Regions from separate parts of the Homo sapiens genome. Here region 1 is linked to region 2. Evidence: fine-mapped expression QTL. A gene starts in region 2. The other region holds a variant in brackets. All regions are shown on one strand. Distances are between the middles of the regions. Region 1 overlaps CXCR2 (C-X-C motif chemokine receptor 2). Region 2 holds the start of CXCR1 (C-X-C motif chemokine receptor 1).

What was found. PIP is the estimated chance that this variant, and not a neighbour inherited with it, causes the effect.
Region 1: its variant is fine-mapped to the expression of CXCR1 in whole blood (TOPMed, PIP above 0.99).

Annotation. Positions count from the first base shown.
Region 1 is chr2:218,130,722-218,139,119 of GRCh38, forward strand. CXCR2 (C-X-C motif chemokine receptor 2) reads left to right here. Exons shown (of 3, transcript NM_001557.4): 3 at 4,056-6,530. The coding sequence starts at 4,081. The coding sequence ends at 5,163. Among named protein-coding and RNA genes, the nearest start is that of CXCR2, 8.9 kb to the left of the region's middle. The variant C/T (reference allele first, on the strand shown) is at 4,866.
Region 2 is chr2:218,163,957-218,172,350 of GRCh38, forward strand. CXCR1 (C-X-C motif chemokine receptor 1) reads right to left here and starts at 3,006. Exons shown (of 2, transcript NM_000634.3): 1 at 2,952-3,006; 2 at 1-1,288. The coding sequence starts at 1,255. The coding sequence ends at 203.

The DNA of each region.
Region 1 (8,398 bases), 33 kb before region 2:
TGTCATCTCCTTCCCTTAGTTTGTCCCTCTAACTGCCAAGTCATCCTCTGTAGAGATTGGTAAACTAAAAAACAACACCAACAACAAACACCCCTCTCCCTACCCTAGGAGCTGGAGGTCACTGGCCTGACCTGGTTCTCCTTGCTGAGTTCTCTACCTTCTGTCCTGACTTGCATGCTCTCCCTCTGGAACCTGAAGCTGACCCATAATGCCTGGGAGCATGAGCTCACCCATACACCTCCAGCCCACCCCCAGCACAGCTGAGCACTGGATTATCCACAGTGAGGATTTACCTGTGAAACATGCTCTGCCACTGCTGCCTGTGCTGACATGGCAGTTTCTGCAGCAGCCTCAGTCCTGGCTTCTCACAGCCAATATTCATACATACAAGGCCCTGCTCTCTAAGAGCACAAGCTCTCTGCACCCAATATGCCCTACATCTACTCTCAAAGATGGGTCTTCTGTTGGGTCATTTGTTCCCTTAAGAGCATCTGTAATCATCTGCTCCCAGAAGTGATCCACCCTTGACCTCTTGACTTCATTGGACATACCCTGGGCCTCTCAGCAAACTTGCTCTCAACCATGGGACTGAGGAGCTGGTGACTTCTTTCAGGTCTTGCTGACCATACTGGTCCAGCAAGCTGTATTCCCAGCCCTCTCAATACCTCCCCAGCCTTCTGGCCAGGCAGGGCCAGAAATGAGGGATTGCTTATAAATTACGTAAGACATACATAAAGTACAATGTTAACTTTTTTTTTTTTTTTTTTGAGACGGAGTCTCCTCTGTCGCCCAGGCTGGAGTGCAGTGGCGCCATCTCGGCTCACTGCAAGCTTCGCTTCCCGGGTTCACACCGTTCTCCTGCCTCAGCCTCCCGAGTAGCTGGGACCACAGGCGCCCGCCACCACGCCCAGCTAATTTTTTGTATTTTTAGTAGAGACGGGGTTTCACTGCATTAGCCAGGATGGTCTCGATCTCCTGACCTCATGATCCGCCCATCTCGGCCTCCCAAAGTGCTGGGAGCCACCACGCCCGGCCCAAATGTTAACTTTTATTGTTGTGATCTAGTATAGTACATTACAACTGATTGAATCTTCTCCATCAGTTGCCTCGGCATGCTGGGAAGGCAATGTATCTGGCCCCTAACTCTTAAAAGAGAAACTAAAAACTTGTCAGGAAGGTGATGGCTAAGAATTCCATCACTCTTGGGGGAAAAGTGGCATTATTTTTCCAGTTTTGCTTAATCTTCTTCAGCTTTCTTCTTTGCTACATATGATTGATGACAACAGAGACTTCCTTTCTGCTAAAAAGAAATCCTCCCTGGGACTTTTGTTGTTATTTTTGTAATATTTGTATTTGCTTTGCAAGGCCGTGTACCCTTTGATTAATCTTTTTTTTAATTAAGACATAAGTCACATACCCCAAAAGTCACCCATTTAAAGTTTTTAGCATATTCTACAACCATTGCCACTAATTCCAGAACACTTTTATCACTCAAAAGAAAAACTCCGTAGTCATTAACATTCCTCTCCCAGCTCCCCTTGACCCTGGAAACCACCAATCTACTTTCTGTCTCTACCAATTCTACCCATTTGCCTATTTTGGTCATTTCACATATATGGAATCACACAATAAGAAAACTTTTGTGTCTGCCTTTTTTCACCTAGACTAACATTTTCAAGGTTCATCCATGTTGTATTGTGTATCAGTACCTCATTCCTTCTCATGGCTGAATAATATTCTGTTGTACATAATACAGTCATAAGTTGCTTAACAATGCGGATGCATTCTGAGAAATATGTCATGTGAACATGGTAGAGTATACGATGCTATAGCCTACTACACACATGGGCTATATGGTAGAGTACTGCTCCTAGGCTACAAACCTACTCAGCATGTTACTGTACTAAATACTGTAGGTAATTATAACACAATGGTATTCTTATATATAAACATAGGAAAAGAACACTAAAAATACAGTATTATAATCTTATGGGACCACTGTGGTATTTGTGATGTGTCATTGACCAAAAAGTCTTTCAGTTGCTCATGACTGTTCCTCAATTTGTCTGTCCGTTCATCAGTTGATGGATATTTGGTTTGTTTCCACTTTTTGGCCTTAATGATGAATGCTACTATGAACATTAGCTTTCAATTCTCTTGGGTGTATACCTAGGTTGGGGTTTGCTGGTTCATGTGGTAACTCTATGTTTAACTTTTTTGAGCAACTGCTAAGCTGTTTTCCAAAGCAGCTGCACCATCTTACATTCCCACCTGCAATGTGGGAGAGTTCTGACTTTTCCACTTCCTCACCCACATTGTTCTTGGGCATCTTTTTCTGAGTGTGCCCAGCCTGGTGAGTGTGAAGTGGGTTCTGGGACCTTTAACTTCCTGGTTTTTCTCTCACACTGGGTTCCATTTTGGGGGTAGATTACGGACTTGGACATGGTTGGTGGTAGGGTGGTCATCCCTTACTCTAAGGCAATGGCCGGAGGGTGATCTATTTTGTGGTTCAGAAAGAAGCTAATTAGGGAGCTGGATTGCTTTAGTTGACTGCTTTGAGAAACTGGGATTTTTTTTTTTTTTTTTTTTTTTTTTTGAGGCAGAGTCTCGCTCTGTTGCCCAGGCTGGAGTGCAGTGATGTGATTTCGGCTCACTGCAACCTCCACCTCCTGGGTTCAAGCAATTCTTGTGCCTCAGCCTCCCAAGTAGCTGGGATTACAGGTGCACGTCACCATACCTGGCTAATTTTTGTATTATTAGTAGAGACAGTGTTTCACCATGTTAGCCAGGCTGCTCTCAAACTCCTGACCTCAAGTGATCTGCCACCTCAGCCTCCCAAAGTGCTGGGATTACAGGTGTGAGCCACCACTGGGATAATATTTTTGAATAACTGCAGCCCACCCTCCACACCCAGGCTTCCCCAGAGCAGGATCTGTGCTGTCCCTGTGGCAAGGGCAGAGCCCCAGGAGCTAGACTAAATCTGAGAGGAACAGGGGAGTCAAGGCTAGATGGAGGCACACACATGCAGGACAGGAAGGGTCTCCAGCAGGGCTGGAAAGCCACCAAGCAAGGGTAGTGCAAACCCTGTCTTCTCTGCTTCCTGCTGCCCCTCTCTTATTGGGTAGCAGACTGGCTGTGTCTGCTTATCCCGCATGGTGGCACATGGCTGCCCAGAGCTCCCCAAATAACCTGTTACGTTTCCACCCACAGGGAGAATCAGGCAGCCCGCTTGCTTATTGTTTTTAATATACTTTTCCAAACTACACAGACATTCCCAAAGCGGGTCTCCTTCTACCCAAAAGAGAAACGCTGGGCCTTACTAATTAACTGAAGACTCTGCTAGCTCGAGCCTTCCAAAACTCCATGCCACAATTGTTCAAACCATTTTCCAGAATACATCTTTTAAAATAACTTTTAGAAAATTGAACAAAGGGATTCATGTCTCAGCTTTATAGTCAAACCATGATCTTTTCTGAGGGTATAGCCCATTTGGAGTTCCTGCTTAATCCCCTGATTAAAAACTGAATGGGGCTGAGTGCAGTGGCTCATGCCTATATTCCCAGCACTTTGGGAGACAGAGGCAGGAGAATTACTTAAGGTCAGGAGTTTAAGACCATCCTGAGCAACATAACAAGTCCCCATCTCTAAGACAAAAAAAAAAGAACTGAGTGACATCTCACATCTCACATTTCTGAACATTAAACCCAGCCTTGATAGCCAAAGATGCTCGCCACTGAAGGATCCAGGTAGTATTGAGGGTTCTGTGGGGATTATCCAAAGAGAACTTTCTACAAAGTTTTAGGTGATGGCGATGCTAAAAGAAATGCTAAGAATTTCTCTCTTATATTAAAGAGAACTATGGTCCTCTCATAAAATGTACCATTTATCACCAAATTTATCTCATAACCTAAGAGCTACCACTTACAAATTTGAAGGGAAAAATTACTACATTGTAATACTCAAGCCAACACAAAGAATCCTATCCCAGTTTCTTGAGTGGATGGGCAAGAATATGGGGAATTTATTATGCAGTAACCTTCATCTCTCTTCTATAGGTCAGGATTTAAGTTTACCTCAAAAATGGAAGATTTTAACATGGAGAGTGACAGCTTTGAAGATTTCTGGAAAGGTGAAGATCTTAGTAATTACAGTTACAGCTCTACCCTGCCCCCTTTTCTACTAGATGCCGCCCCATGTGAACCAGAATCCCTGGAAATCAACAAGTATTTTGTGGTCATTATCTATGCCCTGGTATTCCTGCTGAGCCTGCTGGGAAACTCCCTCGTGATGCTGGTCATCTTATACAGCAGGGTCGGCCGCTCCGTCACTGATGTCTACCTGCTGAACCTAGCCTTGGCCGACCTACTCTTTGCCCTGACCTTGCCCATCTGGGCCGCCTCCAAGGTGAATGGCTGGATTTTTGGCACATTCCTGTGCAAGGTGGTCTCACTCCTGAAGGAAGTCAACTTCTATAGTGGCATCCTGCTACTGGCCTGCATCAGTGTGGACCGTTACCTGGCCATTGTCCATGCCACACGCACACTGACCCAGAAGCGCTACTTGGTCAAATTCATATGTCTCAGCATCTGGGGTCTGTCCTTGCTCCTGGCCCTGCCTGTCTTACTTTTCCGAAGGACCGTCTACTCATCCAATGTTAGCCCAGCCTGCTATGAGGACATGGGCAACAATACAGCAAACTGGCGGATGCTGTTACGGATCCTGCCCCAGTCCTTTGGCTTCATCGTGCCACTGCTGATCATGCTGTTCTGCTACGGATTCACCCTGCGTACGCTGTTTAAGGCCCACATGGGGCAGAAGCACCGGGCCATGCGGGTCATCTTTGCTGTCGTCCTCATCTTCCTGCT[C/T]TGCTGGCTGCCCTACAACCTGGTCCTGCTGGCAGACACCCTCATGAGGACCCAGGTGATCCAGGAGACCTGTGAGCGCCGCAATCACATCGACCGGGCTCTGGATGCCACCGAGATTCTGGGCATCCTTCACAGCTGCCTCAACCCCCTCATCTACGCCTTCATTGGCCAGAAGTTTCGCCATGGACTCCTCAAGATTCTAGCTATACATGGCTTGATCAGCAAGGACTCCCTGCCCAAAGACAGCAGGCCTTCCTTTGTTGGCTCTTCTTCAGGGCACACTTCCACTACTCTCTAAGACCTCCTGCCTAAGTGCAGCCCCGTGGGGTTCCTCCCTTCTCTTCACAGTCACATTCCAAGCCTCATGTCCACTGGTTCTTCTTGGTCTCAGTGTCAATGCAGCCCCCATTGTGGTCACAGGAAGTAGAGGAGGCCACGTTCTTACTAGTTTCCCTTGCATGGTTTAGAAAGCTTGCCCTGGTGCCTCACCCCTTGCCATAATTACTATGTCATTTGCTGGAGCTCTGCCCATCCTGCCCCTGAGCCCATGGCACTCTATGTTCTAAGAAGTGAAAATCTACACTCCAGTGAGACAGCTCTGCATACTCATTAGGATGGCTAGTATCAAAAGAAAGAAAATCAGGCTGGCCAACGGGGTGAAACCCTGTCTCTACTAAAAATACAAAAAAAAAAAAAAATTAGCCGGGCGTGGTGGTGAGTGCCTGTAATCACAGCTACTTGGGAGGCTGAGATGGGAGAATCACTTGAACCCGGGAGGCAGAGGTTGCAGTGAGCCGAGATTGTGCCCCTGCACTCCAGCCTGAGCGACAGTGAGACTCTGTCTCAGTCCATGAAGATGTAGAGGAGAAACTGGAACTCTCGAGCGTTGCTGGGGGGGATTGTAAAATGGTGTGACCACTGCAGAAGACAGTATGGCAGCTTTCCTCAAAACTTCAGACATAGAATTAACACATGATCCTGCAATTCCACTTATAGGAATTGACCCACAAGAAATGAAAGCAGGGACTTGAACCCATATTTGTACACCAATATTCATAGCAGCTTATTCACAAGACCCAAAAGGCAGAAGCAACCCAAATGTTCATCAATGAATGAATGAATGGCTAAGCAAAATGTGATATGTACCTAACGAAGTATCCTTCAGCCTGAAAGAGGAATGAAGTACTCATACATGTTACAACACGGACGAACCTTGAAAACTTTATGCTAAGTGAAATAAGCCAGACATCAACAGATAAATAGTTTATGATTCCACCTACATGAGGTACTGAGAGTGAACAAATTTACAGAGACAGAAAGCAGAACAGTGATTACCAGGGACTGAGGGGAGGGGAGCATGGGAAGTGACGGTTTAATGGGCACAGGGTTTATGTTTAGGATGTTGAAAAAGTTCTGCAGATAAACAGTAGTGATAGTTGTACCGCAATGTGACTTAATGCCACTAAATTGACACTTAAAAATGGTTTAAATGGTCAATTTTGTTATGTATATTTTATATCAATTTAAAAAAAAACCTGAGCCCCAAAAGGTATTTTAATCACCAAGGCTGATTAAACCAAGGCTAGAACCACCTGCCTATATTTTTTGTTAAATGATTTCATTCAATATCTTTTTTTTAATAAACCATTTTTACTTGGGTGTTTATATTACTGCTTCCAAATTGCTACAGAGTGGTGGGGCAAGGGTGAGTGGAGGTCTTGGGTGAGAGTCTTTACAAGAAGTAAATCTCTTTGTTATTTGCTGTGTCATAGAGAAAAGGATGGAATAGAGATGGAGCCCAGCCTTGCCATCCCCTCACCCCCAACCCAAGCTTCCTGCTGTAGACCACACATCATGGAAAGAAATGCATTCTGGGATGCTCTAGGGCGTCTCGTGTCGTTGGGTGAGGCAGTAGTCAGGAGTGTCAGGGGTGAGACTTAGAGTTAGAAGGTGCAGAGGGTTGAGTAAGTTTACCAAATCCCCCTGATCAGGTAGCAGGAAGGCAGAGAGCTCTCCCAGCTCAACCAGCAGCACCCACTGTGAGTGCCCTATCCTCTTCCCTCTCTTCCACCCAAACACACACCCATCATTCCAGGTTTGACAGGACAGCCCAAATGCAGAATGGGGAAGTGGTTTATAATCTGTCATTAGGAGAAAACAAAAGATTCGAATCATGCCTCCAACAGCATGGAGTGCTGACTGTTCGGAGAGTGGGGGGATACAGCAGAGACCACGACAGACAGTGCCTTGCCCTGGGGGAGCTCACATTCCTAGGGCTTGTCTCTGCAGGGTCTTTGTCAAGAGGGGCTCTGGGTCTGAGCAGCCTGAGAAGGAAGGAAGGAGGCAAGAGGAACTGAACGTCCGCAGTTCCCAAACAACCCCCTTCAGGTTAACAACTAAATCTAGGGGAAAACAGGGAGGCAGGAGCACACCTCTGAGTGGGAGGGCTTGAGGGGCAGAGAACTTCCACTCAAAAGCCACAGAAGTGCCTTTCCTATTGCATTCAGCAACAACAATCCCTTCTTTCCTGCTCATTCTATGCTGGGTACTTGCTAAACTCGGGACCAAGCACGACTCAACTGCTCTGGCTGAGTCTTCGGAACAGCTTCTGATTCAGTAGCAGGGAAATGCAGGGGAACGTGTATTTACCAAGGACCTGACTTGCCAGAGGAACCAATGGTGCTCTGCCTGGACAAGGCTGATGGACCAGGTGGCTCCCTGAGATGACTCCCAGAGGGAAGAGGCCAAATTACACCTCACTCTGGTTTCAGGACTCTGCTCTTTCCTCTCACAAGGACTGGAGGAAACATGGTTCTCCAAGGATAATAAAAGGATACCATCAGCCTAGGAAAATGAGGCAGAGATTAAATTATGCTTACGTGAACTCTGTTATTCATCTCTATCTCCTCTCTCTCTCTCTCTCTCTCTCTCTCTCTCTCTGTCTCTCTCTCTCTCTTTCAGACTCTCTCTCATAAGAACAGTCTTGGCACAAATAATTTACCAAACACGCCATCCCTAGGACAGGCGAGTCTGGGGATTGCCTTTGAGTTGTTGACTTCTTTCTTCCCTCTGATGTTTCTGATCCTGAGTCCCAAGGTCTCAGGGTCCAGCACCTTTCTGCCTGATCTGCCTTCTCGGTCTGTCAAAGAGGCCTGAAGTCCCCATTTCCATACATAAACGAGGAAACTGAGGCTTTACCAAAGCAACCTGGCCAAAATCTCATGGCTAGACAGTAGTGGAGCTGAAATAAGATTCCTAGTCAGTTCGTTTTTTACCAAATATTTCGCTTTTCGGTTCGAGCACCTGACAGACAAGATGGAAAATTACATGTAGACATGACCTTTTCAGACCATTTCACTCACACGGGTAAGACCAGTCTACATTTTCTGCACCTGCACTCATCTGTGCCTGGAGCTGGGGTTGCTGGAGTCTCAGTCAGCGAGGCCCAGAGGAGGCTCAGGGGCACAGGTGTGGGAGCAGCCTCAGGCTGGGTTCTCCTATTCTTGGCTGGCAGGCAGCACAGTTAAAGACAC
Region 2 (8,394 bases):
CCGGTCCTTGGAGGTACCTCAACAGCTCCTCAGAAGGTTGGTGTGGCCCCTGAAGACACCAGTTCCTAACTTCCCCACATCCTATAGCGTCCCCCCAAAACCCAGATAGTGCCTGTCCAGAGCCAGATCACCTTCCACACACAACCTCAGGGTGTTGGTTATTCTTTCCTTCTGAGAAGAGATATTCCTTCATCGATGGTTTTCAGAGGTTGGAAGAGACATTGACAGACGAAGAAGTGTAGGAGGTAACACGATGACGTGCCAAGAACTCCTTGCTGACCAGGCCATGCATAGCCAGGATCTTGAGGAATCCATGGCGAAAATTTTGGCCGATGAAGGCGTAGATGATGGGGTTGAGGCAGCTATGGAGAAATCCCAGAATCTCAGTGGCATCCAGGGCCCGGCCGATGTTGTTGCGGCGCTCACAGCTCTCCTGGATCACCTGGGTCCTCATGAGGGTGTCTGCCAGCAGGACCAGGTTGTAGGGCAGCCAGCAAAGCAGGAAGATGAGGACGACAGCAAAGATGACCCTCATGGCTCGGTGCTTCTGCCCCATGTGGGCCTTAAACAGTGTACGCAGGGTGAATCCATAGCAGAACAGCATGACAAACAGCGGCACGATGAAGCCAAAGGTGTGAGGCAGGATCCGCAACACCATCCGCCATTTTGCTGTGTCATTTCCCAGGACCTCATAGCAAACTGGACTGGAATTGTTTGGATGGTAAGCCTGGCGGAAAAGGAAGAAGGGCAGGGACAGATTCATAGACAGTCCCCAGCAGCCAAGACAAACAAACTTGACCAAGTGACGCTTCTGGGTCAGTGTGCGTGTGGCATGGACAATGGCCAGGTAACGGTCCACACTGATGCAGGCCAACAGCAGGATGCCACTGTAGAAGTTGACTTCCTTCAGGAGTGAGACCACCTTGCACAGGAATGTGCCAAAAATCCAGCCATTCACCTTGGAGGCGGCCCAGATGGGCAAGGTCAGGGCAAAGAGTAGGTCGGCCAAGGCCAGGTTCAGCAGGTAGACATCAGTGACGGAGCGGCCGACCCTGCTGTATAAGATGACCAGCATCACCAGGGAGTTTCCCAGCAGGCTCAGCAGGAACACTAGGGCATAGGCGATGATCACAACATACTTGTTGAGTGTCTCAGTTTCTAGCATACAGGGGCTGTAATCTTCATCTGCAGGTGGCATGCCAGTGAAATTTAGATCATCAAAATCCCACATCTGTGGATCTGTAATATTTGACATGTCCTCTTCAGTTTCAGCAATGGTTTGATCTAACTGGAAGGTTAGAAGGAAGGAAATGTGATTTAGTAGCTCGGATTCAAGGCATTCTCATCAATGATGTGAGAGCAGTTACTGGGATATCCTTGGCTTCCCTGTTGGTTTGGCAATGAGAGCTCTCCTTCCTCCTTTGACTCCAACCTGGTCTTCTTCGGAGGTTGGCTTCCCAGTGTTCTCCACCTTCCACAACTCTAAGGCCTGGCCTGAGTGTGGGGTAAGATGGAATATGGGGAAAACACCTTAGCCCTAGCTCAACCTACAACTGCCTCCTCTCAGCCTATGTCTCTACCTCTGTCCCTCTTTAGCCTTCTCCATCCTCAGCTGTGTCTGTGCATTTGGATGTGGGGACCAGGTTGGTCTTAGACATTCAGGGAAGGGCCAGCATTAAGCAAAATGCAAGAAGGCAAACCTGTTCCCAGGTGTCCCCTTCTACTATTTCTATTCCTATGTTCTCCCTGATTCTTGTTTACCCTCCTTAAAATCTACTGGGGGAAGGAAGTGATAACAACACATTGCATTAAACTGTATATTTTAAGCCTTCTTTAAATGAGGAGCACATATTTTGTTCCTCTGTCTAAAGGAGTTTTAAGTATTTGAGAAGATAAAGTCTCCATCTTGGTCCCTGAAACCCTCCACCCCTGAAAAAATCCACAGAATCATTCAAGAGTTTTCAAATATATTTCCTATTGTGAAATAGTTTACTGAAATAAGATCTTCCCAGAAGCCCAGTATGTGAAGCAGATAAAAGCTGAGCCACTGTGGGGCAGAGTGTGCTAATCTCCGAACCCAGATGGCCCCTAAAGAGCCCCTCAAAGCTCCAGGACTCTCCAGAGAAGTCTGAAAGCCTTTGGAAAGTCACCGAGGTTGGTTGTAAAGACACCTAGCATCCAGTCTTCATTCCATCCTGATTCTACCATTAATAAGTTTCGTGTGTAATCCCAGCCCTTTGGGAGGCCAAGGCAGGCAGATCATGAAGTCAGGAGTTCGAGACCAGCCTGACCAAAATGATGAAACCCCGTCTCTACTAAAAATACAAAAAAATTAGCTGGGTGTGGTGGCGTGCACCTGTAATCCCAACTACTCAGGAGGCTGAGGCAGGAGAATCACTTGAACCCGGGAAATGGAGGTTGCAGTGAGCCGAGATCGTGCCACAGTACTACAGCCTAGGCGACAGAGTGAGACTCCATCTCAAAATAAATAAATAAATAAATAAATAAGTCTCATGACCTTGAGTGGGGTCTCGTACCCCTATAGATTTCAGTCTTCTCATCTGCAAATCGAGGAAGACAGAATCATCCACCTCTCATTTGCTGCCAGGCCTGAGGGTGTATGATGAGTCCACTCAGATCCACACATTTTAGTGTGTTCCCTCCCTACCAGTATTTGCATTTTCACTGAAGACAAAGTCTTAAGGTGAAGCAATAAACATCAAATTGGGGAATGGTCAGCCTCTTCCCACAAAAGGGCAAGGTATAAAAAGAGGGGATGAGGAGGCTGTCCTCTTCACCTGCTAACTCCATGTATGAGTGGTGGTCACAAGAGAGGAAGCGGGCAGCAGAAATCCTCAGCTCCCACAGAAATGAATACATTTTCCAAAATAAAGTCAAGCCAAGCAGCCCTACCCCACAGAAAGTCCTAGCAAACAGAGGTGGCTTCCTACCTGAAGCACCGGCCAGGTGTGTCCAACAGTAGGAGCTGCAGTCAGAGATCAGAGTGACTTAACAGCTAGAGGGCACTTGATGAATAAACGGAAATAAGGAAACCACATCAGATGACACCTCCCTTCTGAGCCCCACCCATGTCTACATTTGGGGAAGAACAGTTTAAGTCAAGGGATCACAGACTTGTGATTAGAGACTGCCAGGGTCCATATGACCAAGTGGGGGTCCCAGGTGTGAAGCTGGGGTTGAGGGTCCATTATCTGAATTCTCCACTCTATGGATGATCATTTTTATTATTTTCCTTTTCTTGAATTTATTTCCATTTGTTTATTCCTAAATTCCCTAGTATATCACCTGTGGAAGCTTGCAACTTCCTGACCAAGTATAAAGGGCGAAGGATTTGACTTACAGCAGAGACTTCAGAAGGAGTCCCCCATAGGAGGGACTTGGGGGCAATCCAGTGGGAAAGAGGAGGAGGACTGCGCTTGAGTTGTGTTTGAACAGCAGGCACTCAATCTCTACTTATTTTGCAGGCTTCTTTGAGGTGGCCTAGCTCGGATTCAAGGCATTCTCATCAAGGATGTGAGAGCAGTTACTGGGATATCCTTGGCTTCCCTGTTGGTTTGCCAACGAGAGCTCCCCTTCCTCCTTTGCCTCCAACCTGGTCTTCTTTGGAGGTTGGCTTCCCAGTGTTCTCCACCTTCCACAACTCCAAGGCCTGGCCTCAATCTCTACTTATTTTTCAGGCTTTTTGAGGGTATTTGAATGGAACACAAACCCTCCTTTGCCGCCAGCCACTCTTTCGCACAATCACTGCCAATGACCAGTTGGTTTAAATGGCCCTGAGGCTGACGGCATAGGCCACTCCCAGAGTCTGGCTGGTTAGCAGAGAGACCACAGAGCTGGGGCAGTCCATGAATGGAAGAGCTGTGGTCAAGGTCACTGCAGCCCCCATCTCAGTAACGGAGAATGGCTTCTCTGGGAACCCACCTTAGCTGCCTCCAGCAGCTAATGGCTGTCCCCTAGCTTGAGTCTTCTGGCACCTTCGTCACTTCTCCATATAACATGAACCCTGCTGTGAGGCATTTACAAGTCAGCCCTCTTCTAGCTTGGGAGCCATGAGACAGCAAGAACCTTCTTCAATTCATGTTTATGTTCTCTTTCAGGGAATATAGTAGGTGCTCAATCAATGGTTGTGGAATAAATGAAGGGAGACATTTCTCCTGTGATTCATGGACCATAAGTCACCACCACGATTCAGTGTCTATTGCTTTTGGCTACACACTAAAGTCACTGGTATGCCTGATAGCTTCACTTCCACACAGCCCAGTTGGTCTGCCTGGCATTGCTTCTTTCCAACCTTCCTCTAATGTTTGGAGCTAATGCCAGTCTGTGCAAGTATAAATCCTGCCCTACCACAAATGCCAAATTTACCATGCCATGGATTCCTACAGTTCTGCACTGGAAAGAATTTTTTTCTTTTTTTAAGAGACAGGCTCTCACTGTGTTGCCAAGGCTAGAATGCAGTGGTGTGATCATAGCTCAGTGTAACCTCAAATGCCTGGGCTCAAGCAATCCTCCCACCTCAACCTCCTGAATAGCTGGGACTACAGGCAAGAGCCACTACATCTGGCTTTCTTTTTTTATATTATATTTTTATTTTTATTTTTTATTTAGTTATTTATTTATTTGTAGAGAAAGGGTCCTGATATACTGCCCAGGCTTATCTTGAACTCCTAGCCTCTAGTGATCCTCCTGCCTTTGCCTCCCAAAGCACTGGGATTACAGGCATAAGCCACCATGCCCAGCCGGCAAGCCTATTTTTTAAGCTAAGTTGTGCTTTCCTCCTGGGCTCTTTTATCATTCATAGATGGTAACAGGAAGTGTAAGGGGACAATAGCCACTCATGCTTTGCTTTTACTGATGTTGGACTATTGTGCTCTAACGCCTAGACTAGAAAGGAGTCAAAGATGGGGTAGTCCCAGGAGGTGGGAGACTCCCTCTATTAATCATCTAGGGAAAATCAGCCCCAAGGGCAGAAAATAGTCACTGGGGACACAGGAGAAAAAAGACGGGGGCCTAGACTGCAAAACACCTGCCTATACTCAAGAAAGACCCTGAGGCCGGGAGAAGGATAGTTTTTGCCACAAGGGGGCAGCAGTTGCTAGACAGGGAATCCCCTGTGAGACACCCCCTTGAGAAAGACCAGGGCCAAGAGCAGGTATATTTAACACCGTATGTTAAGTTCTTCTTGGTGTATAGTTCCCTTCTGCTTTTCCTAAACCCTCAGTAAGTCGGTTCACTATTCCAGTCTATTTCAAGGAATCACTGAGGGGTTAGGGAAGAGGCTGGTCTCCTGGAGCCCGAGGAGTGAAGGGGAGCAGCCCTGCTGCATGAGTGTGGTGAGGGCAACAGCAATGCTGGGGTCTCCAGGAGAAGTTGCATCTGGAGGACAAGGGTGGAAAGAACCTTTCACTTCGCAGTAGGACGAGCATTTCACTGAAGGAGGGAGAAAGCACATATAGATGAGTTTAGAATAAAATTTTACCCACTTCAAAATGTTCCAGCAAGTCAGCCCACCCAACCTATCTTCTATACCTCACTTCCCACTTATAACTGTGCCCTCTTAAAATGGCCTAGAATGTTCCTGCTGAGAAGCATTTTTCCATTCCATGTAGAGCTCCTAATGCCACAAAGAAAGCTGTGACAGGTGCAGCCCGAATGCCAGTCAACTGGCAAAATGTAGTATCTCTTTGGGTGACATCTTCTTACCACTCTGTTTTAAACATGATGACTTCTGCACAGACCATGTGAACAGCACAATGTGGCTGTAAGAACATCTATTTTGTCCCTGCATCAGCCTTATGCCAGCTTCAGCATCTCTTCTCATTCCTCCAGAAGAATCCACTTGGATCTGGGATCAAAGTAGAGGAAAGGGGTAGAGGGAGGTTTCTCCTCTCTCCCCAGTGACGTCCTCGTAACCACAGCAACAGGCTCAGGGAGTGAGTCTGTGACCCAAGATGATCCAGTCAGAGCAAAGTTCAGATGTTTGCTCAATGAATGTGGAAAAGCAAGTATATAGTCTTGTTGCAGTCAGCAGCCATTTTGCTACCATAAATGGCAAAAACAGTCCAAGGAAAAAACCAACACACAGAAGAAGGCAGAGTTGAGAGAATCAGAGAAACAGACCAAGAGTCCTGAACAAACCATGCCCAGAGGCCATCTTCTCTCTGTACTTTCTTCGGTTCCATGAGCCAATAAATTGTCTTTATTGTTAAGACCAGTTTAAGTTGACTTTTCTGTTACCAGCAACCAAAACATGCCCAACTGTGAGAGTTCTGGAAACCAAATGTGGTCTAGGATGAGAGGAGCAGGGAGTAGTGTCAGTGAGACACTGGGTCAAGGCTGCAGTGGTAAAGATACAGGGGCATTGACAGACACGTGACCTAGCCAGGTGCAGACCTCCCAGCCCTGATCTCCAGTCTCCAGAGGAAGCCAGAGAAGGACCTTGAAAAGTGAGCATATTTGTTTCCTGCAATCTCCGTTTTAAAACTAAAATTAAATTTAAAAATTATTTCCTGCAATCTCAATTTTTTTTAAAAAAATTAACAAATAAATAAATAGGCCAGGCATGGTGGCTTATGCCTGTAATCCCAACACTTTGAGAGGCCAATGTGGGAGGATTGCTTGAGTTCAGGAGTTCAAGACAAGCCTGGGCAACATAGCAAGACCTATCTCTCTAAAAATAAAAAGTAAAAGTAAAAATTAGCTGGGCATGGTGGTGTGTGCCTGTAGTCCCAGCTATTAGGGAGGGTGAGGCAGGAGGATCACTTAAGCCAGAAAGGTCAAGGCTACAATGAGCTATGATCACACCACTGCACTCCAGCCTGGGTGATGAAGTGAGATCCTGTCTCTAAATAAATAAATAAAGTGAGCCTGGGCAACGTAGTGACACCCATCTCTACAAAAATGTTTTAATTATCTGGATGTACTAGCACACACCTATAGTCCCAGCTACATGGAAAGCTGAGGCAAGAGGGTCGCTTGAGCCCAGGAGTTCGAGGCTGCAGTGAGCTACGATCACTCCACTGCACTCCAGCCTGGAAGACAGAGTGATGTACTGTCCTGAAAGAAAGAAAAATTAAAAAAGGAAAGTGAGCGTCTGAGCACTCATCTGAAGGAAACGCTCCGGAATGGATTCAGAAAATCCGCATGAAGGACCCAGAATTCCTTGCTTTGAAGTCAGACAGACCAGGATGGAAATACTGGCTCTTCTTTACTAGTTTGTGATCTTGGGTGGTGATAGGAAAGCATTTTTCTATTCTATGCAGAACACCCAGTGCCACGAAGAAAGCCGTGACAGGTGCAGCCTGAATGCCAGTCAACTGGCAAATTGTGGCATCTCTTAACATTTATCAAAATATCCTTATCTATAAAAACGGGGATAATAATACTTACCTCTCCAAGCTGTTGTGATGATGGAAGGCTTGAGCTCCAAACCAGCTGGTACAAATCCCAACTCTGTCCCTGGCTAGATGTGTGCCCTTGGGCAGCTTAGATGCTCACTCTGTGCCTCAGTTTTCTCACCTGCAAAAGGATAATAAAAGTAGGACCTAGTTTATAGGATTGGCATCAGGATCAATTAGTTAATATATGTAAAGTGGTTGGCAGATAATAAGTGTTCAGTCACTTTTAGTTCATCCTGGTCTGGCTGGCTCCAAAGCAGGGAATTCTGGGTACTTCATGAGGATTTCTGAATCGATTCCGGAGGATTTCCTTCAAATGAGTGCTCAGATGCCCACTTTCCTTTATTTTTCTTTCTTTCAGGACAGGACATCACTCTGTCTCCCAGGCTGGAGTGCAGTGGAGTGATCATAGCTCACTGCAGCCTTGAACTCCTGGGCTCAAGCGATCCTCTTGCCTCAGCCTCCCATGTAGCTGGGACTATAGGTGTGTGCCACCACAACCAGATAATTAAAACACTTTTGTAGAGATGAGGGTCTTGCTATGTTGCCCAGGCTCTTATGATCACTTTATTTATTTATTTATTTATTTATTTATTTATTTATTTATTTATTTTGTACACAACCCCCATGGTCCCGTGGGGGAGCTGTGTATCGAACACACCAAAAAATGCAGAACCTTTGATGCTGAAATTCCACTAAAAGAGGGAAGGGAGGAAGGGAGGAAGAGGAGAGAGGGAGGGAAGGAAGAAAGGAAAGAAGGAAGGAAGGAAGGAAAGAAAGGAGGAAGGAAGGAAAGTAAGTTTATCACAGGGTTGTTTATAATAATAAAACAGCAATAATCTCAATGTTCTTCAAAAAATGTTTATACAAATTATACTGGATTTATAAAATGGAATACCATGCTTCTATTTAAAATAATGTACAGCTATAATTAATGCTATAGAAAAGTGTTTGTAATAGGATGCTAAGTGGCAAT